3 separate regions of the Homo sapiens genome follow, and all the other regions are linked to region 1. Evidence: fine-mapped expression QTL. A gene starts in region 1. Each other region holds a variant in brackets. All regions are shown on one strand. Distances are between the middles of the regions.

Region 1 (8,015 bases):
AAAGGGCTCCGCATGCTCCCTCATCTCAGAACAAACTGGTAACCCAGGAAGCGCTGGCAGGTGCTAGCTCCCACCCCCACGCCTCTCTTACCCCCTCCTGTGGGTGGTTTCTCTCCAGGATCTACACTCGGTGCTGCCACTACCCCAGCCCTTTGTCCTCCCTAGGCCCTCATTTTCACATCTATAAAAAGGAAATAATCACAAGAGCACAGGGCCGTCCTGAGAATCAAAGTGGGTGGAGGGCAAAACAGCATCTGTAATGGGTAATCCACCCAACCTGTCTCCTCCTCCATGCAGTCTCCCGAGATCCTCCTCTTCAGAACCCTCATTACCAGGCCATTTACCTGACCCTGAGAACAGCCACCCTGGCTTGTCAGTTAACTTTTCAGTGTTAGGATTCTGGCTTCCCCCATGTCACTGCAAGTGCCACAAGGTCACCATCACCTCATGCCCAGCCCTTCTGAAACCTGTCTCTCCCAGGCACAGTGACATACACACCAAGAAAACTAGGACATCCATCTAGCCTGGGACCTGCACACCATGAGTCTCCCCTCAGCTTCAGCTCCCCTCAGCTTCAACCCCTGAGTTGTCTGAAAATGTAAGACTTAAATGAATCAATCTGGTCAAATCCTCTCATTTTTAATGAGCAAACTGAGGTTCAAAGAAACCAGGTGGCTCACCCACGCCCAGGCCCAGAAGCTTCCGTCTGCATCAGTGAGAATGCGCACACACTTCAGGACTGGCCGGAACCAGGGGCAAAATAAACTCAGGGCAGTGGGTGCTCTGGCTGAGCCAGGGACCGTATTTCAAAGCCCAAGCTCCATGACTTTGGGGCTGTGCCCCCTCGGGGACGAGCACCCAATTCAAATCAACCTGTTGACAAAACCAGTGGCAGTGATTGCATCAAACCAACACACAGGGACAAAATATTTTCACAGACACAATCGGATTTAATACAACCACCGTCCCAGGACCAACTACGCTGTAAGAATGAATAGGAACAAAGTCGGTCATCAACAGAAAGGTCCTTCTCAGAAGACACAATGGGCTCCTACTGTCTGGATCACGGTTTTACCTGGCGCTGTGCAGCAGAACTTTCAGCTGTGATGGGAACACTCCATATCTGCGCCACCCAATACGGCAGCCGCTAGCCCCATGTGGCTACTGAGCACCTGAAACATGGTGATGCTACTGAGGAACAGAATTTCCACTTTTATTTCATTTTAATTCATTAGATGTAAGCAGCCGCCTGTGGGCAGAGGGTCCTACGCTGGAGAGCACAGTCCTAACCCGCCATCTAAGCTAGAATGTCGCAAGCACAAAAAGAATCCGAGCAAGCAGCACGGGGTTGTGGGAAAAAATACCGGACAGGAAGCGAAGGCAGGATCTAATTATCATTGCCTTAGCCACCAGAAAGCCCCCACCACCCCTTTGAACCCCAGTTTCTCCATCAGCAGAGGGTGGGAAGGGGCTGACAAGGGACCAGGCCCTTCCGGCTCTGACCACCTGCAAGTTCATTAGGATCTCCTACACCTGGGCACTGGAAATCCAAGGAGGCCCGTGGGTTCCCTGCCATGGCAGGTGAATGGGGCACCTGTTAGTCCTGGCTACTTGCCCCAACCCCAGCACCAACCATGTCTCCCCCATCAGACTGAGAGCTCACTAAGGACAGGCACCAGATGGGGCCCTCTCGGCTTCCCCAGCCCCTAGCAAAGCATCTGGGCACAACAGGTGTTCAGGGCTTAAAAGTCAGCATTAACCACGAGCCTTTCCAGCGTGTGTCTGGACGTGGGCTAAGCGTTCTCACCCGCCATTTTGCTCATCCTCACAGCCACACATCAGCGGGCCGAGGTGGTCTCTTCTCCCTCCGCAGAGACCACAGCTCAATGGGATTCTATGATCTGCCCAGGGTCACTCTGCTGGTAAGCCGCAAAACTGCATTCAAACCCAGGACTTCCAACTCCGAAGCCAGGTTCTTAATGTGTAAGCACTGATGCCTGCTACAAATCCATCCCCAGTAGCAGATGGAAGGAAAGGAAAAGAAAATATGAACTGGGCTACCAGAAGTCCACTTGGAGGGGCCTCAGAGAAGTGACACAAACCTCAAAATCCCTAAGTGGCTGAGACTTCCAGCATTTTAAAGCCTCCAAGAAAGAAGGCTAGGTCCCCCTCCTTCTTGGGCCCTCACGGTTTTCCAAGGGCAACGGAGCACCCATAAGGCAGGGGAGAGGCTGGCCGTGGACCGGGAGACCTAGCTAGACCTGACCTCTGTCCCTCAGCAACTGTGTGACTCCGAACAATTTGTGCCTTCTCTGAGCCTCTGAAAAAAAGGTGTAAGAGTCCCTCACAGATTAACAGCGATAGAGCACTTGGCCCGCAGGACTTAATGAGTGGCCACAGAAGCCAACGACACGCTTAGCCATTCCTAAAGCATTTTAGGTCCCACCCCATGCGGCGACTGGCATGTGCTCAAGATAGCAGCCCATCGAACGCTCTGTTCTCCAACCAACACCCTCCACTGAGAGTCCCTACTCCAATCTTCCTCAGAAGAATGTCAGAGACCTGCCCTCAGGTGTCTGGAACTCCATACAGCTACAACAGCCAAGCCTACAGCTTTTCCTGAAACTGCCCGACTGCTGGTCCGGCGTGACCTTAGAGCCAGACACCTTCTAAACCACGCTGTGATTGCCTCAAATACAGTGGCAACAAGGAAATCCCAGGGCATGTTTACAGAACAGGAAAGCTGCTACCTCCTTTCCCTAAAAACCTCAGATGGGGTACTATACAATCTCCTACCTCAGGTCTGGAAACAGACCAGCCTAGCTTTAATTCCCAGGTCAGCCACTCACCAGCTGAGTGACCTTGGACCAGCCTCTTCCCCTCTCTGAGCCTCTGTGCCTAGACTGTAAAGTGGGAATGACCACCACTAGCTCACACAGCTGTTATTGTGAAAGTGACGTCAGCTAATGCTGGGAAATGTGAATGCCCCAGGTCCTGCCTCGGTGATGGAGGCAGCCCTGAAACAAGAGAATGTACAAGCAAGGCACTCCAGGCGGGGACTGGTCCCATCCCCCACCCGGAGCCCAGGCTGGAAAGGAGGGACGTTACGTTTCCACGCTGAAAGCCCTGACGCCCATGTTATCTCCCTTCCCAGGTGAACACCAGGACTTTGCACTCATCAAAGGTTGGGCAGGATTCAGGAACAGAGAGGTTGAGTGACCTGTCCAAGGTCACACAGCCAGCCAGGTAAAGGGAGAAGCAGGGATGGGTGGCGGCCCTGGGCCCATCCTCCTGCAGCGCCGGCCAAATAGGCTCCATCTCCACGGAAGGGGCCGCTCCCGAAGGTCTCTGACCTTGGTTTCCCCAGATGAGAACCAAGCCCCTTCCCACCCCCACCCCACCCCACCCCGCCCCGCAGGGATCCGAGCATCGGGAGAGCGGTGGGCACGGCAGGGGCGGAGGCCAAGGGCGACCACCCGGCCCAGCAGAAGCCCCGGGCGCGGGCGCGGCGTCTACGCGGCCGCGCTGCAGGGCTGGGGCATGGCGTGGCGGGCGCGGTCGGCGCGGGGCTCACCGGACTTGGGGTAGGTGACGATCCACACGTCGCTGGGCCGCACCGGGAAGTTGGCGATCTCCTCCATCTTCCCGCGGCAGAAGGGCGGCAGCCGCACGCCATGGAACTCGAAGTACTTGCTCTCGAACTCCCCCGGGGTGCTGGGGGTCTCGGCCTCGCTCTCCGCCATGCCGCCGCCGTCGCCGTCGCCGCCGCCGCCTCCCGGCTCGCAGCCCGCACGCGCCCGCGCCCGCGCCCGCGCCCGCGCCCCGCACACGCTCGCGCCCCACCGGCGCGCGGCGGCAGCTCCGCAGGCGTGACGTCATGGCGCCGCCGACGCGCGGCGGAGGCTCCGCGGGTATGACGTCATGGCGCCGCCCGGCACGCGGCCGCGGCGCTGCACGGGCGTGACGTCATGGCGCCGCGGAGCCGCGTCCTCCCCGCCCCGCCCCCGGCCGGGGTCACCCACCCGCTGCCGGGGCTGACAGAGACCCTGGCCCGCGGTCTGCAGCCTCCTCAGTCGTGCGTGCGTTCATTCCGCTCATAGCTTCTGTCACTCAGCAAGCGCTCAACACAGACGCATGAGATACCCTGGCTGGAAGGCCCTGAAAGGTAGTCGTCCATTCAACACGTGCTTAGCGCGCTGCTGATCTGTGCCAGGCACTGGGCCAGGGCCCCGACACGCGTCAGGGTAGAAGCAAGCAGAAGCCTGGCCCTGTTGGAGCTTACATTGGTAAATAACCAAGATAATTTCAGGTAAATATTAGGTCCTATTAAAAATATGCGTCTTCGCCAGGCGCGGTGGATCACGCCTGTAATCTCAGCACTTTGAGAGGTCGAGCACGGGCGGATCTCCTGAGGTCAAGAGTTCGAGACCAACCTGGGTAAATGGTGAAACCGCATCTCTACAAACATACAAAAAAAAAAATTAGCAGTGAGCTGTGAGCTTGCACCACTGCACTCCAGTCTGGGCAACAGGACGAGATCTTCTAACAACAACAAAAAAAAAGTATGGGCCACCTAGTCCAGCCAAAAAAACAAAGTGCTTTTTTTTTGCTTTTTTTTTTTTTTTTTTTTTTTTGAGATGGAGTCTCGCTGTGTCGCCCAGGCTGGAGTGCAGGGGCGCGATCTCAGCTCACTGCAAGCTCCACCTCCCGGGTTTACGCCATTCTCCTGGCTCAGCCTCCCGAGTAGCTGGGACTACAGGCACATGCCACCATGCCTGGCTAATTTTTTGTATTTTTTGTTTGTTTGTTTTAGTAGAGACGGGGTTTCATCGTGTTAGCCAGGATGGTCTCAATCTCCTGACCTCGTGATCTGCCCACCTTGGCCTCCCAAAGTGCTGGGATTACAGGTGTGAACCACCTCGCCCAGCCAAAAAGTGCTTCTTAATATCCCATGAGTAGGGGAGGGGAGTGTTGGATTGCAAATTCCAGGACCCCAGATCTATGGAGAAAAATTACAAAAATATACATTTAGTAAGGCACTTCTTGTGCAAACTATAATTTGAGAGCAACCGAGTTCTAGAGATCTCAGTGCAACCCCTTGCCAGTCATGCACTCAACAGACATATATGAAGCACCTACTAACATGCCTGGGGAAGCACAAAGATGAAAACAACACAGCCTGCTCTCATTCTCTGCAGCCGAGCATCATCAGCTGTGTAAAGGAAAAGAATGATTCCTACCTCTAAGTAGTGTAGCCAGGAAGATGGAAGGAGTTTACACCAACAAGAATCTGGAGCAGAGTGGCTGGACGGGACCTATTCCTACTCTCTCCTTCTTACTGTAGAGTGAGACACGTGCATTCTGACACCAAAGACATACACATGGGCTGAGAAGCGCAGGCCATGTGTACATAGCAGACAGAGAGAGGAAACAGCAATTAATCCTGACTTGGGAAGCTTGTAGATGTCTTTCCAAAAAAGAAAGAGGACATTCCGAGCACCCAGCCTTTATTCAGAATAATTAGGCCAATGGCAAAAGGGCATCTAGCCAAAAGCTAGAGGGATTGAGTGAATGAATGAATATCCTGATGTTTCAGGTGAGGGTTCTCACTGTGGGAGAAGGAAAATGTAAGTGGGGAATGCGAGAAGGCAGGGAAGAACTCTATGGTATTGGATTGGAATTGGAGGTATTGACATGAGTTTATGATATTTTAAAATTCCTATTTCTTATATTTGCTGGAAAAGCCTTTAGGCAGTGATATCTCAATAATACTAGGCATACCCACTGCCCAGATCTTTGCTAAATACTTCCCTCACCAAATGAACCTGGGGTTTCTTGGAGAAAAAGCCAACTCCAGGGCAAGGAAAGTACAAGATGAGCCTAAAATGTCTTGTTGAGTCTTGAACTCCTGCAAGTTCAAAAATGTTGGGAATAGGTCAGAAGGACACAGGGTATAACATGAAAGTATTATCATAGGTCAAATCGGAAACAATTTGAGCATGTTAGACAAAAATGGGAAAAAACCCACGTACCCAACAGTAGAATAGATAAATTGCGATATATTCATACAATGGAATACAGTAATTTTTTTAAAAAAGGAATGTAACTGAGAAGAATGTCACAGTCAAAATGATGAACAAACTAAGTCAAGCACAAAAAATGGTATGTCATATGATTCTATTTATATACAGTCAAAACCAAGCAAAACTGATCTATAGTGATAGAGGTGAGAATAGTCTTAACCTGGGGCATTGGAAAGAGGGTTGACTGGGAGCAGACTCAAGGTTACCTACCCTCCATAGTGTTGGAAACATCATAGCTTGCTCTTAGTGGCGGTTACATGAAGATATAGACATAGATAAAAGTACAGACATGGACATAGATGCAGGCCTTGCTTCACGGATACGCAACCAGGGGAGTCACACAGGGTTCTGTGCTCAGAAGGGCCCCACACTTTGGAATTTAATGGTCTGTGGTCACTATCTTGAAATTGTTGCATTTATCTTTGGGTTTGTTTTGTAAGTGAGGTCTGGTCAAAATTAGCTGGGAGTGGTGACACGCACCATAATCCCAGCTACTCAGGAGGCTGAGGCAGGAGGATTGCTTGAACCTGGGAGATGGAAGTTTCAGTGGGCTGAGATTGCACCACTGCACTCCAGCCTGGGTGACAGAAAAAGACTCCGTCTGAAAAAAAAAAGCCATAATGGACATTAATGAGATAATTTGCAATATTTGAATATAGACTCTAGATTAGATGATATTCTATTTTAAATTTCCTAAATTTGAAAACTGCACTGTGGTTATGTAAAAATGTCCATTTGCCTCAGAGGTACATGTGGAAGTATTTGGGGGTGAAGAATCATGATGTCTGCCACTTACTTTCAAATGGTTTTACAAAAATAAAACCACAATTATAACCCTAATGCAAGCACATGTATGTATACACATTGAGAGCGAGAAAGAAAATGTGGGAAAAGCCACAATTGGTGAATGTAGGTGATGATATATGTTCATTATGTAGTCATTTTCTATTTTGCTATAATGAATTACCACAAACTCAGCTCTGTAAGTCAGAAGTCTGATGCTGGTACCACTAGACCAAAAGGAAGGTGTCAGCAGGGCTAGCATTCCTTTCTGGAGGATCCAGGGGAGAACCTATTTCCTTGCTTTCTTTAGCTTCTAGAAGCCACCCACATTCTCTAGCTCATGGTCTCTTTCCATCTTCAAAATGGCAGACACAGTCTTTCTCACATCGTATCACTCTTTTTGTTTACTTGTTTATTTGAGACAAAGTTTCACTCTTGTTGCCCAGGCTGGAGTACAGTGGCACGATCTCGGATCACTGCAACCTCCGCCTCCCAGGTTCAAGCAATTCTCCTGCCTCAGCCTCCTGAGTAGCTGGGATTATAGGCATGCACTACCACGCCCGACTAATTTTGTATTTTTATTAGAGACAGGGTTTCTCCATGTTGGTGCAGCTGGTCTTGAACTCCCGACCTCAGTTGATCCACCTGCCTCGAACTCCCGAAGTGCTGGGATTACAGGCATGACCCACTGCGCTTGGCCATATCGCTCTTACATTGACTCTTCTTCTGTCTCCGTCCTCCACTTTTAAGGACCCTTGTGATTACATTGTACCCACCCAATAATCCAAGATAATCTCCCTATTTTAAGATCAGCTGATCAGCAACCTTAATTTCATCTACAACCTTAGTTTGACTTTGACATATAATATAACATATTCACAGGCTCCCAGGACTGGAATGTGGACATCTTTGGAGGACTGTTATTCTGCCTACCGCAATTGCAGTAAACTTTTCTATACATTTAACTTTTTTTCAGAATAGAAACCTAAAGAAAAACCTTTATTAACAGAAAATCCCTAGGAATTTGCAAAAAGGCTGCTAGAACTAATAAGTGAGTTTAGCAAGGTCATAGGATACAAGGCCAACAAATAAAAACAATCCTATTTATACATACTAGCAACCAACAATTGGGAATTGCAGTTTCAAAAA
Region 2 (8,015 bases), 36 kb before region 1:
CCAGGCAACCACTGGCTTACGCTTAGAGGGCTCTGACATTCAGGAATGTTCTGTGGATTGTTGTGTAAAATAACAAAGGACTAGGCTGAGGGCTGCCCAGGACTCTCTCCCATTCCCTGCCTGTCCAGGTGACCCTCAACCTCAGGACACAGCTCAAATCCCACCCGCACTCCCATGCAACTGCCAACCTGATGGCTCCCTCCTCCTGACCCTGGCTCCCTCACAGTCCTCACAGCACCTTTTGCCTTGGCTTGTTTTCCCTGCCTTAGCTCCAGGTGAGCACAGCCAGAACCATGCTCAGAAGCCAGCACACGAAGGCCTGCAACTGCAGACCCCTAAGAAACCTTGGAGATGCTCTCAGACAGTGCCCACCTCACTTTGCAGATGGAGTGACTCACAGCTGGGACAAAGGTCCACTCGCTCTTGCCCCTGCAGTCTACCCACAAAGCAGCCAGGAGAGCTTCTAAAAATGCAAAGCAGGTGGCGTTCTTCTGAATAAGCCCTCCCATGGCTCCCTATCTTAGTACAAAAGCTGAAATCTCATGACCTGTGAGGCCCTCCAGCTGGCTCGCAGCCACCCCTCCAAAACCGAGTGCCTGCCAGCGCATTGCCCACCCAGCTGCAGCCAGGCCCCCCACTGCTCAGCACCATCTCCTCAGAGGCCCCCCCATTCTTCCACGGGCATGTTCCCTATCCCCTTAGAGCACGCTTGGGCCTGAACTGATCTTGGGTTCTGTCGCCTGTCTACCCCACTGGAATGCAAACTCCACAGAGGCAGGGCTTTCTCTGTCCCCTGCCGCATCCACAGTGCCGGGAACAGTGCCTGGCATGGAGCAGGTGCAGTCGAATGACCGACTCCATGAAGTGAGGTGAGTCACCCACCACGCAGGGAAGAGTGGACATGGGTAAACAGGCGCTGCCTGGGCTCCAGGCACACTGACTGCATCCTGGCTGCTTGACTGATGTGGTTAATAAATTACTAGAAGGCAAGCCCTCTAGGGCACAGCAGACTGGATACTTGATTAACCCAGGGTCTGTGTTAATTCCAGGTGCCAAAATAATTTCTAGAATTTCACCTGAGACCTAGAGGTAGTTCATTTGAAAATAAACATGATTTTCCAGAAGGCTCGAGCTTTCTCAAGGAAAGCAATGCCCTGGACTCTCCTTCCACAGGAAATCAGGAAGACAGGCTTTGGAATTCCCAGTGGGGAAGCACAGTTGGAGGGGCCGGCCTCGGGCACCACAGTGCGCAACGCTGAACACAGGGCTCCCAGGCAGAGACTGGGAGGTCCCGACACCTGGACCCACAGGTGCACCCGCATCTCCCATGCTTTTACCCTTTCTCCTCCACCCCATTTATAGAAGTGATCAGAGGTGAATGAGGAAATAGTGGGGGAACTGACCCCCTGGAAAGTCTGAATTTGAGTGAAATAATGGGGAGAAGTGAACCCCTGGAAAGTCTGAATTCTGCTTCATCAAAGCCCAACACGGGCCTGTTTCCCTCTGCTGTCAACCCCAGGGAATGGGGTGTCAACGGGGCCCACAGTCATATTGTCCCAAGCACCGACAGCACCGCTGCAGGGACCCCTCTACCCCCACAAGCAGAAACGCTCGACGCAACGCCGGGAACATGTCTTTATTAAAGATGCAAGCAAGCACAGAAGGATCATGTGTAGTGCTCAGTAACATCCATACAGTACTAAAAATAGAAAAATATAAATGAAATTTCACAGAAAGCAGCCTCCCTCACAGAAACACAGGCAAGGTGCTGCCGAGCCCACCATGCGATGCCACGTGCCACCTGCCTGGCCACGCTTCTCCCCATTACAAACAAAAACACAAGCTTCTCTCTACACCCGTTTCAAATACAGCACCAAGAACGGAGACCCCTTCCACAGCAGCGACCCTCCTGACCACCACTTTGGGTGCTTTCCAGCCACATAAATGACAGACAACCCCGGTCCCCACGGGGTTGGCTGGCTACTGGCCCCCGACTCTCCATCGCTTCAGCGAATGTGGGTGAGAAAATTAGGCAGTGAAGCAATAAAGACCTCACCTTTACTCCCTCAGATACACGGAGGGATGAGGTGGACAGACACGCAGGCGGCCGTGCCAACCTGATCCGAGTGAAACAGGGCTACACTCGCAAAATGGTCCTCCCACGGCTGAGCGCCTCAGGTGCACAGAACAAACTGAATGATAAAGACCCGGGGATTTTAGAAATTTACTATTAAGCATCTGCTTGCCAGCATTAGTAGGCTATCACTTCAGGAAACAAAGTAAGGCTGTGGAATTCAGCTCAAATTCCGAGCGCAACTCGGTCCTTTGGTGGCCGACTCTCCACCCACTGCATGCAAATGCTCCTGACTGCATTAGACTCCCACCTGCCAGCCTCACCAGGCAGACTTCCCTCAGCACATGCTCCGCGGGCTCCTCTGCATTGGGCCTTTGGAGCCGCCCGCTGGAAGTCTCTGGCAGAAGGACGTCCATTCTGAAGACCTAGTGAACAATTTCTGCTCATTTCAGGAAGGTTCTGAAGAAGTGAACTCCGTCAGAATAAACAAGTGTCCAGATTCCCCCCAACAGACCCAACTCATCCTCTGTTCTCACCACTATCTCAGAACCAAGTGAGAACAGAATGGCTGTGCCTTAGATAATAAAACTACAAAAATAAAGAGTTAACCCTGAGATCTTTCTACCATTCGGGTGTGGCTCGCTCCTGATTCCCCTTGGAAATGAACTTTTATTTGGTTTACTGACATTTATGTAGATTTCCAGTGAAAAGCTCTATAAAATACAATAATACGGGGTTGAAAAGGCAGACATTCTAGTTGCATATATTACAGGCTTTATCCTTACGGTCCAGGCCATTGGAACTGCAATGTGGAGACTGTTTGTAATCAGACATGGAGAGGCTGCACGTTCTAAAGGCGAGACAGCTGCTTTCGGTTGGGAATCATCACACTCCCTCCGCTCACGCCGCTCTTCCCTTCCCCCGCTGTTTCACACGCTGCTTCCAGAGTTTGTCCAGCAAGGAATAAATGAATGCATACAGGACTTTTGGCTAGTAGACTGTCTGGGTATTGTGAGCATGCAGGTTGTTGTTTCTGTTATTATAAATAAAAGTCAAACGTGAGGTCACACTTTCCCATCTTCTGTTTATACACCAAGTCAAACTTCTCATTCATGGAGACGGTGAAGATGTCCTTCCACAGCCCAACTCTTCCTGAAACGCAAACAAGAGAACTGCTGGGGCCACTTGCTGTCCGGCCAGCTACTGAACTAAAGGAAGCCTTGGAAATGGATCTGGAACATTCCAGATCTATTCCTGGATCCCTTTGAACTTGGCCTATGGGGGCAGGAAGGGCCGTCTGAGCTACAGACCAGGTGGTCCCCTAACATTTGTGAAACTACTGGATGCGGCAGAACATGACCTGAACCAGCTTCCCTCTGAGGCTGTGGCACAGTGAGCCACAACCACCTCCTGGTGCCATTCCACACCCCCCGCTGGGGCCCACCAGGGAGACTCTACTCCTGTTCAGTGCTGGGTCCCCAGCACCTAGAACGGCACCTGGCACGTGGCAGGTGTTTAATAAACATCCCAGGAGCGAGTATGATCTGCCGCGGGAGTGCACTGCTCTGGGCATCACAGGCAGCCCTGGCCCTTCCCACGCCATTATCCACTCACAGCTCAACAGTGCCACCAAGGCGTCATTGGCTTCGGGAGAATTTGAAAAGGAAAAAAAAATCATTCAAAGTGCAGAAAATTTTACACTAAGTAGGAAGCCCTCCTGACTGGGCCAAAGATGCAGATTTCAAGAAGCCTGCCCTGGCAAACCCTGGGGAGGAATTTAAAGTGAATCAAATAGTCGCAGCATTAGCTAGCTTTACAGACTAGATGCAAAACATGCACTGCAGTGAGAATTCCCTGAGTCAACAATAAAATGAGTCTGGGCACAGCCCCCAGCTGCTCTAGCCCAGGCTTAGTCAGAAACCCAGACCTCTTCCTGGCAGCCACAAGGGAGGGCTGAGCTGTGGG[A/C]TAAACTGCAGGCACCGGTCTACGCTGGTTTATGAAGGCTTTGGAAAAACGAAAGACAGCTCAACATGACAAGAGAAGTTGTTGCTCCCATTGTCTTTGTTAATATAAAATCTTAGGTTGGTCTAGTCCAATAGCAACGGTGACCGTGAAGATGTCTGGGGCGGGGATTCCAAACTTCCCAGTTATGGGAGCTGTGAGCACATCACCCGAGTACTGCCTCCCTGCTTTTGAAGAACTGCTCGTTTAGAATTCTTTCCATTGTCAGCTCTCTGAGATCAGAGCTCTGTCTCCAGCAAATGTCCTTCACTAGCTCCGTTATTAACAGCGGTCCTTGTCCAGGCAGGACCTCAGGTTTTTCAAACTGCAACCCTGCAAATGCTGAGCTAAAATACCCAACGTAACACGGACTTTCTCTTTGGTAACAAAAAATTATCAGTGTTGGAGAGAAAAACAAGAAAAATTATTCTTGTAACCCTTTAATGATACCTAAGGGGCAAAATTAGAAGCTGCTAGAGCAACCAAACTATTTTTCCATGATTATTTTTCTCAGCTGAGACAGCTGAGAGCTCGTCAGAGGAGTCACCCACCTGGTTTAGGATTTGGAATCAAGACAATTTATGCTGTGACATGAATCAAATCTAAGCAATGCAGCTGGCTACTCGGCCCTGCATTCTCACCAACTCAAGAAGATCTTCCGAGCAAAGACGCAATGTGCTAAAAGAAAACAAATCAAAGAACTGAAATAAAGCAAAACCAAGGTAAACCATGATAAAGCAAACCCAAGGGAAGGAGCATATGGGCACACAGTATGTTCTCGACGCTGCTTCACCACACACACACACACACACACACACACGTGAACCAAAAGGGGTATTTTGGAGAAGGTCACATCCAAGGATAACAAAACACAGCAAAAGCAAAACTAAAAAAGAGCAAATAAATGTTAAATAACAAATATTTATGAAAATGCAGCCAGGAAAGAAGTCGAGAGGGACTGTGGTTCAGTTCACTTCCTCCTGAGGAGTCCACTGCTCTGCCTTTATAAGAGACGGCACTTTGCACTTGACCTTCAAACCGCCCTTAGCCGTGATCAGCCCCTTTTCAGAGAAGAACAAAAAGCCGCAGAAGCTGAAGGCCTGACCTATGTTGCGTTCCCAGAGGGCAGCAGAGCTGAGCTGGAGCCCAGCGCGTCTCTCATCCGCCCCAGGCATCTCCCACTCCATCTTGTGGGGCTGCTGCTGAACAGAGCCATCCACGTTTCTGGGCCCTCCCTGCAAACATTCTCAACCCAGGAAGTGCCCAACACACCAAGTGTCCATCAGGTTCATACTTACCAACAGGGGGCCTCCTATGGCCAAGGCCAGCACCCTGGGATTCAGGGGTTTTAGAGCCTGGGCTCTCCATCATCAAAGCCAAATGCCACACACCCTTAAGGACAGGGGGAGCAACCCAGGTGGATCTGGGGAGGATTCCTGTCAGGAACACTGTCCCCATCTCCAGCTGCCTCATGCCCACTGTCACTTGCCGCCAAGAGCAGGAACTGGCCTCCCTCTGTGCAGCGGCTTAGCTTGGTACTGTCTGCTTAAGTTCACCACCCCGAAGTGGGGCTAGGCCTCACCTGTGCTGCCTGCACCCAGAAGATGCTCAGTCAGCGTCCACTCAGTGAAGGAAGAAAAACGGTGTCTCCTAACTTCCCGCCCACTTCATTTAACTCTCCCACAAGTCAGTTAGAGACTGAGAAACCCATCAGCATGCTTTGCGCTTTGACATGTCATAGCACCAAACCCAGTCCCTGGATCTGCTCTGTGGGGCGTTTGATTTCAGGCCATCTGAGTAGACTCCCTGCTGAGAAACATCCCGCCCACAAAGCCTGAAATGCACTTTTTCAAGTCAAAACACTGTTTGCTTGGAGGCAATGCAAACACCAGCGGGCAGGGTACTCCGTCACTCCATGAGCACTGTGCCATCCATGGGCACCAGCTAACAGAGCACAGGCCATGGGCCAGCTACAGACTGCTGTAAAAGGAGAGCAGGGAGGGCAACAGGGACCGGACTCGGCTCCCTAAGCAGGCAGAGAAAGCAGCCTGGCTGGGGTGGGGAGTGCCTGGGCGGGAGGCAGGGTGGGGCACGTACCCCGGCCCACGGGCAGGGCCTCAGCGTTGCAGCACTGGTCCACCAGCTGGTGGCAGTGCTCCGTCAGGGCTTCCAGCTGGGCCTTGTCACAGGACACCCCCAGGAATCTGGCCAGCTGCTCCACCATCGTCACCAGGTCCTGGAAGACAAGTGCAGAGAGCAGAGCAGCCCATCAGAGGCGGGGCCTTTTACTGGACACGACCCCAGGCTGGGCACACGCTGAGGACTTTTTACACACGGCCTTCCTTACTTAATGCTCACAAGGCTGACATCAGCCTTGTCCAGAAATAACACTAAGAGGTTAAGAAATCGCCCAAGTGTGCTCAGCTCTCACGTGGAGATCTTGAATTCAAACCCTGGTCCTCCAGGGAATTGGGTTGCAGACATGAGGTCTTAATAGAGGTGTGGTTAAGTTTTAACAGGAGCAAGAAGTAAAAAACATATTTCAGAACATGGTTCTTGTGAGGAGCAAGACCTAATGGGCTCCTCTTTCCCTTCCTGCTGCCTGTCAGCTGGCGTCTGGGCTGGCCCTTGGGAGCGCAGGGAGGCCCCTCTGGTCTCCAGATGGCCCTGCACTGGGCAGGGAGCCCGCTTCATCACAGGCAAGATTCCGTCATGCCTGCCATACCCTGCCCCATTATTTTACCACGCCTGACAGCGGAATGTCACTGATGTGGCTAACCGTCTTGAGGGGGCCATTCCCCAGCCCCCCACCCCTGCCACTTTCTCCCCAAGAGATGAGGCTCCTCGTCTTCTCAATCACAGCCCTGAGCTGTCACCTAGAGGTGCCTTGGTCCCATTAGGAAGATGCTGGAGGCTGTTTCCTCTCTGGAAGGTTTGTAAAGCAAATTCCCGCATTAAAGCCTCTAAAAAGTCCTACAGTGAAAAGATGATTTAATTTCTTTATTGCAGCACTTCGGAAACCTTAAAAGACAATGTTCTCTGACCGCTGGTGTGGGAGTCAGCTGGTGTGGGCGCCAGCTCCTCCCTGGGTCCCCACAGTGCGCTGACTCCTGCAGCAGCGGTTGCAGGTCTGATTCTGGCCTCGCACTGCCTTCCACAGGCAGGGGTGTGGTGCATCCCGGGCGCAGGGCTTGACTCAAGAGTCAGAGGAACAGTTATTAGAGAATGAGCCAAGGAATACAGAGCTCCCTTTCCCTTGCCCTGCCACCAAGAACTCCATTTCAAAGAAAAAGGGTAGCAATGGAGAAAGAGTGAAGAAACCTGGCTCTCAGAAGAGATGCCGCAAGAAGGACACAGCTGGCTTAAAGTCAGCCTGCTGGAGCGTTCAGCAGAATCCTCGTGGGGCAGCTCACTGCGGCGTGACGTCCATCTCAGAGGAAGGGGCGTTTCTGCCAGGCTACATCCAGCAACATGTCACAGGACACTTGCTGGTTATGAAACCCAGCAGGGATCAGGCAGAACGCCCAGGTCAGCTGGCAGGAACGGCCCACTTCACCTCTCTGAGCCACACATTCCCCATCTGGAACTAGCGACAGGGCCGCAGCAAGAGGCCGCACACCACGGCACGGAGCCAGCGTGTTGGGGTCGTGCCTCCACATGGGCAGGTACTAGCTGGCCACACGGTTGCAGTCAGGGCACCCCGTGACTGGTGAGAACACCCTGCAAGATGACTGAGGATGAAGTGGGAATATACCCGGGGTGCCTGGCACAGTGCCCGGCTCGTGGGAAAGGGCCACTGTAATTGCGGTGCAGTGGAGCGCAGGCAGTGAGCGCTCTGGCAGGAAGCATTCCCTCTCAACCCCAGGGTGAGAACACATGGACCCACACCACAGTCCTGGAGACAACCATGCTCACTCGGGGCTAGTTTTCTGGAGTAAGA
Region 3 (8,015 bases), 46 kb before region 1:
TCCGCTTGTCTGCTCGAGGAGACAGCCGGTGAGGACGGGAGCTGGCCTGCTTTGCCCAGGCTGTAACCTCAGCCTCCGCCCATACCCACAGTAAGCATCCATTCCATTGATATTCGCTAAATGAGTGAATTATTACTAAGACAGAGGGCCGAGTGGAAGCGCCATAAATCACGTGAGTGAATGTAATTGTTGTCGCTGACCCTATGGAGCACTTCCCTTGCCAGGCACTCACCCATCCTAGGTATGTACTTTACATGTAATTGTCATCTTCATTTGTCTTCACAACAACCCTGTGAGGTGGGTGCTGTGGTTACTCCCATTTTACAGATAGGTAACTGAGGCACACAGAGCATTTTGTTCAAGGACACACTGCCAGTCAGGGGTAGGAGCAGAATGAGAACCTATGGAGCTTGCTCTTAGGCACCCTGCCACACTGCTCACTGTGGGAGAGAAGCAGCCAGGCAGACGTGTGCAGCTTGGAATTCCTTGCACACATGGCTGCGGCAGGTCAATTAGGTGCCCTGGTGTGTGCTGCAAAGATGGATACTATGCGGTCCCTGCTGGGCACTCTGACTACTTCACTGGGCAGCTAGTTTTCCTGTTCACCAAGAGAATTCTTTCCCATGGCTTGTCTCAGACCTCCCGCACTCACTACTTCCTCACCGGACTCAATGACCATGGGTCTTATCCCATTGAGAAAATGTAATGCATAAGAATGGAATGCACTCCTTCACAATCACTTTGGCATTCATCGCCTCTTTTCCTCTTGCCCCAAAAGAGGGTCTCTTACAGAGGCCAGTCCCTCTAACTGTGTCCTGGATCCCTCCCCATTTGCCTTCTTTATTATAGGCAGTGCTCTAAGTGTGGTCTGGGAATCCCTGGGGATCCTGAGACCCTTTCAGACTGTCCATGGGGCCAAAAAATACTTTCATAACACTTAAGACTTTACTTGCTTTTTCATTGTTTTTCTCTCATAAGTATATGGGGGGATTTTCCAGAAGCTACATGATGTGTGATATTGCAACAAATTGAATGCAAAAGAAGGTAAGAGATCCAGCGGTCTTGTACTAAGCCAGATGTTAAAGAGATCTGCAAAAATAGAAAACTGCCCCTCTTTTCACTTTTTTGGAAAGTGTAATTTTTCATTAGAGAACGTTAACATCTAATGGGTTTATTATTTTTAATGAGTTAATAAATTTTTTATCAATTGTATTTTCTAACATGGTAAATATTGATAGATATAAACATAAATAAAAGTTTTTTGGGATCCTCAATACTTTTTAAGAGTGTGAATGGATCCTGAGGCCAAAAAGTTTGGTCCTGAGATCAAAAGGGCTTCAGTTATTCCCTCTCTCATGATAGCCAAGAGTCTCATTCTTTCTCTTTCTCTCTTTCCCTCCTTCTTGGAACATGCTCTAGTATCTCACATCTTTAAAAAAAAAATAGATGATCTTCTGGTTTCCACCCCATTTCTCTGCTCCTCTTTAACCTGCTTCTCAGTAGAGCTGTCTATACATGCTGTCTTTCAGTTACCAAATTTCACAGAAGCGTGACTCTCATTGCCTGGTAACTGGCATTCTCACAAATACTTCTTCTCTACTTGGCCGTACATTACTTGACCTCTCAGTAGCATTCAGCCCAGTTGATCACTCCTTTCTGCCTGAAATACTTCAGGCTTCTCTAATACCACACCAACTACTCAATTCTTGGGCCCCACTGGTGACTTCCCTCCTCTGTGTGGCCTTTGGATGTTAGGGCCCCTCTGACCCTGTCGTAGGTCCTGCTGTTATGCTTCTCACCAGCCTTGACCCCTCTACTGGAATGTACTGGAGATCACTCAGACTTAAGCCATCCATATTGCCCTTGATCCACTCACCTCCCTCACTCACCTATTACTTTTTTTTTTTTTTCGAGACGGAGTCTTGCTCTGTCGCCTAGACTGGAGTGCAATGGTGCGATCTCGACTCAGTGCAACCTCCACCTCCCAGGTTTCAGCAATTCTCTGCCTCAGCCTCCCGAGTAGCTGGGATTACAGGCGTGAGCCACCATGCCCAGCTGATTTTTGTATTTTTAGTAGAGACAGGGTTTCACCATGTTGGCCAGGCTCGTCTTGAACTCCTGACCTCGTGATCCGCCTGCCTCGGCCTCCCAAAGTGCTGGGATTACAGGTGTGAGCTACTGTGCCTGCCCGCACTCACCTATTCCAAAGCAATGCTCAAACTAGGAAGCCTTGTTGTTACCCTCAATGATCACTACCTCATACCCCATATCTAGTGCTTCAGCAAGTCTTGTCGATTCTAACACCAGAATACGTACATGGTAGCAATCTCATCCATTCTCTCCAAGTTCCCCTGCACTACCTTGCCTTAAAAGCCTTCTTATGCTAAAAATAAAAATCTTTAAAACAGCATGCAGGGCCACTGGGACCATCCTACAACCTCAACCTCATTCTCCCCCCAGGATCGCTATGGTCACAAAGCCCAGAAGCCAGCTTGAATGGGGCTCCTGCTGGCCAGAATAATGAAGGACAGTAAAAGAAATAGGAGTCATGAGTCCAGGCCCAGGAGCGATGGACAGATAGAATAAATGCAGGACAAGGGAGGGCACGTGCTTGCAGTAGCAGGCCTAGGGACAAATGGTCATGCAGGAGGACTAGAGCTGAAAAGCCATCATGTTGCAACCACTGAGTGAAGATTGATTCAGGCAAGGATCATTCACGGGTGCTTCATCTCGGGGTTCTTTGGATGGGGAGCAGGATATTTGCATTGTTTTAAAGGATAGTCCCACAGATCACTTATTACTTACAGGAGAAAAAGTAGTCATAATACAAAAGAAAAATGGACAATGCTTGGATACCATAATAAAAATTAACACTACCAACAAGGAGCATGGACATTGTGTGGCTTCAGATGTAATGTGAAGGACAACCTCCGTTGAAAAGGGCAACTGCTGTAGTATTCTAATCTGGAATGCATCACCTAATCCTATCATAAGAAGACATTAGGAAAAAAAAAATAAAGATAATTCCATTTTTTTAATGGTTTTTGGTGTTTTGTTTGTTTGTTTGTGACAGAGTCTCGCTGTGTTGCCCAGGCTGGAGTGTAGTGATGCGATCTCAGCTCACTGCACCCTCCACCTCCTGGGTTCAAGCGATGCTGCTGCCTCAGCCTCCCAAGTAGCTGGGATTACGGGCACACACCACCAAGCCCAGCTAATTTTTGTATTTTTAGTAGAGATAGGGTTTCACCATGTTGGCCAGGCTGGTCTTGAACTCCTGATCTCAAGTGATCTGCCTGCCTCAGCCTTCCAAAGTGCTGGGATTACAGGCATGAGCCACTGTGCCCAGCCTGTAACTTACTTTCAAATGCTTCTGAAAAAATTATGTATTGATAGATAGCAAATAATAAAGCAATTGGGGCAAAACGTGCACAGTTTAAGTGGATCTGAGAAAGGGAGTTGTATTAGATAGGGCTGCGGTAACAAATTTCCACAGACTGGGCAGCTTGGACAACAGAAATGTATTGTCTCACAGTCCTGGAAGCATCTTCAATCCAAAAGAACCTGAGGGATAATTTTAGGTGATAAACCCTGGCCAATGTCTGGCTGTGTGGGCAAACATGGAATTCTAGTAGGGAATACCTTAATGTCTTTTGCACTGGCCTGCTCTCAACAGTGAAGCAGGCCGGGCACGGTGGCTCATGCCTGTAATCCCAGCACTTTGGGAGGCTGTGGCAGGAGGATCACCTGAGGTCAGGAGTTCGAGACCAGCCTGGCCAACATAGTGAAATCCCATCTCTACTAAAACTACAATGA[TTAG/T]TCAGGCGTGGTAGTGGGCACCTGTAATCTCAGCTACTTGGGAGGCTGAGGCAGGAGAATTGCTTGAACCAGGGAGGCGGAGGTTGCAGTGAGCCAAGATTGCGCCACTGCACTCCAGCCTGGACAACAGAGCGAGACTCCGTCTCAAAAAAAAAAAAAAAAAAAAAACAACAGTAACAGTGACGCACACATAAGTGGTGTACAACTGGATCAATGTAGCCAAGAACCCAGAAACTCAAAACCCTTGCTGATTTCCTTGAACCCAAGGATAATTTTTCTATATGTTGAAATGACTAATTAGATGAGTCCATCATGAAGTTTTGTCACGTGATTCTCTCTTTTTTCTCCTTAAAGATCATCTTCAATCCAGAGGGTTTTCCTTGTTCCAGGAAACGTCTCACCTCCATGTGCAGATTTAATTTTTACAGAAACTGAAATTTCCCTCATTTATTATCTAGATGAGCCCCTAAAATCTATTCAATAAGGTTTGATCTTTGATGGAACAGACCAGAGTTGTATAATGTGACAGTGGCCCCAAGGAACAGTTTGTAGGAGGAGATTGTTGTCTTCTCTGAAAAAAACTTCCCAGAAGACATTGATGGTTCCCTTAGGTGCCCTGCAGTGGGTCCACTTCCAACAGGCTGAAGCCTGGATTTGGTGGGTGAGGGTCCTACCTTTTCCTAGATACCATTCAGCATCACTGAAGCCAGTAAACTCACCTCCTGAGGAACCGTTACCATCTGTACTATTTACACCCATGGCATGAGTCTGCTGCTCAAGACCTTTGATGAGAATCTTGAAAAGGAAACCATGAATTGCTGGAGAAAATATCTTTACACTTATATGCAACAGATGGTCCATTCCCTCAGTATTCAAGAAGAAACTCTGGGATCATGGAGACCTGGGTGACAATCACCCTCTGCCCACCCTGCGGGTTTTGGGGGCTTGGAGCTGGTTTTCACCACAATTCTGTACACCTAAGAGACTGGGCCGTAAGATCGAGCCTGTAATTATCTCACAGGCATCAGTGATGATGTTACGAATGCAGATTATGCCTTCATGTGGAGAAAGAAACAGTAGGGGCTGATTAGCCACGAAGAAGTTAAGTACTGGTTTCCACCATGTCTATTAATAAAGAAGGGAAGAAGAGCAAGTACGTGGCAGGGATGCGTAGCGTGTCCACATGGAAGCGGAGAGCCTCTCCCTCTCAGAAATCTGCTTCCCTGACTGCTGTCCTTTTGGTAGTCTCATAAAATGGAGACAAGATTCTCTTCAGCTGTCCTGAGGAGGAAAAAAAAATATGACATAAAAATAAATGAGGTATAAGTAGCTCTTTTGGAAAAGCTACTGTGGTTATTTTTTCTTTATTAAAATAGCTGCTTTATCTCTCGAATATTTACCTTGACAGATGACGCAGCTGCTCGTTTTAGTTCAATCAGCCAGAAACTAAATTGCACATGTTAAACGTTGTCACTACAAATAATTGATGATTACTTGTAAACAGGGGGCCATTTGAGGATCTATCTGAGGATCCTCCATGGAGAGCGGCTCTCCACAGGCTCAGCAAAGCACCTAGGCATGTTCTCTTTCCCCTTTAAGAGACTGATATACTATTAAGCTCTTAATTTCCTTTAATAGCTACTGGTTGTTTCCTTTCACGGAAAGAAGAATAAAATCCACTTATGTTGCTCCTGAACAAGATTCCGTGGTGTCGAACACTGATATTTAGAATTTTAATGAACCCTGGCTGGGCGCAGTGGCTCACGCCTGTAATCCCAGTGCTTTGGAGACCGAGGCGGAGGGATCACCTGAGGTCAGGAGTTCGAGATCAGCCTGGTCCACATGGTGAAACCCTGTCTCTACTAAAGATACAAAAATTAGCCAGGCGTGGTGGCAGGTGCCTGTAATCCCGGCTACTCAGGAGGCGGAGGCAGGAGAATCGCTTGAACCCTGGGAGGTGGAGGTTAAGGAGAGCTGAGATCGCACTACTGCACTCCAGCCTGGGTGACAGAGTGGGACTCTGTCTCAAAAAATAATTTTAATGAAACCTGCCTCCCAAACATTATATTGCAGCAATCTTAGAAGAATGCACCACCTCTGGAATAGAGAAGCAGTTGGGAAAGAAGTGTTTCATGTTTCCTACACCTGGGCAACAGGCAGGCCCCTGACAACCACAAGTAATTCTTTCCTGAGAGCCGGGATCTTGCAACAGCTTGTCATTAGTGCTGTTTAGCATTTAATTTGCCTTTAGTTAGGTAACAAGCATTTATGGATTACCTGTTAGGAACGAATGCACAGTATGGGAACAGAGGGATGAATGAGGCACAGACTCTGCTCACAGCCTACTTGGACTAGAAATATCTACTCAGGAAAGAAAACTTGAAAGCAGTTAGCAAATGCAAACCGATATACCACTACAGGGAATCATCACTCTTTCCGAATTCAAGGCTCTAACTGCTGGCACACTTCTAAGGAAAAAAGATATGCGTTTCTGCATCCCGTCTCATGATGGGAGTGAAGATATGCCAGTCACGCCTTCTGTGGGCTAAGGAACGGTCCGGCCTTCTCTTCCTCTGCAGAGTCCGGGCGTGATGGAGACGCAGGATGGAGGCAGCCATCACCCATTGAAAAACAGCCTGTCTGCCAGATCTGGTGACCCCCCCCTAAGGTCCTTGGTAAAAACTGAGGCCTAGTTGTGTCCAGGATGGCAGTGAGCTGGGATTCATTCATGGCAGCCCCCAGGAGATTGCGTTTTTAAACCAGCCCAAGGCATGTGGTGGACATGGATTGGCAGCACCTACAGATAACGGGGAAGGCTTTCCAAGGGGCCAAACGGTCCATAGCAGTTAGGGAAGCGAACGTTAGAAGTGCAGGTCAAGGTCTCAGAGTGAGCAGTGTGGCTGGGCCAGAGAGGGCCTTCCAAGTGCATAGCCAGTGGAGGCAGCTGGACACAGCTGACATGACAAGGCAAGGCTGGATCCGTCAGACTCTGGGAATGCTCCCAGCCATCAGGCTTCACGGAGCACTGCTTCTGTGCTAAGTTCCTGATGCCAAGGAAAGTGAGAGAGACATGGCCCTGGCCTCAAGAAGCTTTCCCGGCAGATGGCCGTGTATCCGGGATATGTTAAGGGAGGTGTAATATTAACCAAAAGTGGAGCTCTGAGCTCCTACCCTTGGCAGAGGGCTTCTTGGAGTAGATCATGCCTGGACTGTGCCCAAGGGCGTCTTGGAGTAGATCGTGCCTGGATCGCACTGAATCAGTGTAAGCTGGGTCAAGTCGGGGAATGGCAACCCAGGCGGAGGGAAGTGCATACTTGGGACACGGAGGGCACAGACAAGCCGTGGTTCTCTGGCAGTGAGATGGGTGCCAGGCCACAAACTGGATCTGAGAGATTATTTCCCCATCTGGGAACTGCATGTACTATGGATTGTAAAGGGTCAACCTGAGAGACAGAAACAGGGAAAAGGCCCTCAACCATTCACTTCAGTGTCTGGGGATGCGTGGACTGGGGAAGAGTCTCTGGCTGGCTCCAATGCGGTCTCTGCTTCTGCAGAGGGGGCCTTGCTCACACAGTCTTCAGACTTGCATTCCCAGCTGGTGCCCAGCACCACGAATATATGGGAAGATAACAACTCTAAAGAGGGATAAAATGTATTTTTTGGTCGGTTTTTATTTTTCAAACACATTTAGCATTCTCTGGTTTTTAAAAAATGCTTTTAATAGAGCACAGACTCCTTTCCTCAGTGGTGAGGAGACAGATTTAAGGGCTGTAGCTCAGACAGTCAGTGCCAGCTAGCATTCAGGGATCCAAGTGTGAGAATCAAATTGTCGTTTGATGTGTGGATTTGGCAAAGGCTCAGCACGCCTTGGAGACGGTGCCCGTGGCCCACACTGGGTGGCAGGTGCTTCTGCCTTGGGCTCTCTGCTCCTGCCGGCCGGGCCTGTCATCGGCTGAAAAGCCGGCATCTCCCACACCCATCAGCTCCTCTCTGGAGCTGAGTCGCTGGACACTGTGACCACACTTAAGAGGCACAGCATGCTCCTGCTGGGTGGAATTTTAGGACACCTGGTCTGTGACCTCTTCATTATGACATAAAAGGGACCTTCCCTGCAGTCCCACAAATAGGAACAGAGCAGCACTGGAGCTGGCGCCCGACTCCCGGCAGGGAAGGGTTCTGTCCTCATTTGGGCGTATTCT

Alleles and levels. Alleles are on the strand shown, and positions count from the first base shown. SD is a standard deviation of normalised expression in the study named. Not every link is listed here.
As copies of C replace A in region 2, the expression in testis of the gene that starts at base 3,874 in region 1 goes down (moderate effect, 0.42 SD a copy in GTEx).

The links. PIP is the estimated chance that this variant, and not a neighbour inherited with it, causes the effect.
Region 2: its variant is fine-mapped to the expression of SULT4A1 in testis (GTEx, PIP 0.96).
Region 3: its variant is fine-mapped to the expression of SULT4A1 in cerebellar hemisphere (GTEx, PIP 0.96).

The regions. Positions count from the first base shown.
Region 1 is chr22:43,858,640-43,866,654 of GRCh38, forward strand. It overlaps SULT4A1 (sulfotransferase family 4A member 1), which reads right to left and starts at 3,874. Exons shown (of 7, transcript NM_014351.4): 1 at 3,575-3,874. The coding sequence starts at 3,743. RefSeq lists an enhancer at 1,690-2,189.
Region 2 is chr22:43,822,888-43,830,902 of GRCh38, forward strand. It overlaps SULT4A1 (sulfotransferase family 4A member 1), which reads right to left. Exons shown (of 7, transcript NM_014351.4): 6 at 6,173-6,311; 7 at 1,622-3,226. The coding sequence ends at 3,114. Among named protein-coding and RNA genes, the nearest start is that of EFCAB6-DT, 14 kb to the left of the region's middle. RefSeq lists an enhancer at 5,099-5,861. The variant A/C (reference allele first, on the strand shown) is at 4,040.
Region 3 is chr22:43,812,744-43,820,758 of GRCh38, forward strand. It overlaps EFCAB6-DT (EFCAB6 divergent transcript), which reads left to right. Exons shown (of 2, transcript NR_186822.1): 1 at 1-241; 2 at 4,171-5,159. Among named protein-coding and RNA genes, the nearest start is that of EFCAB6-DT, 4.3 kb to the left of the region's middle. RefSeq lists enhancers at 168-969, 7,273-7,914. The variant TTAG/T (reference allele first, on the strand shown) is at 3,814.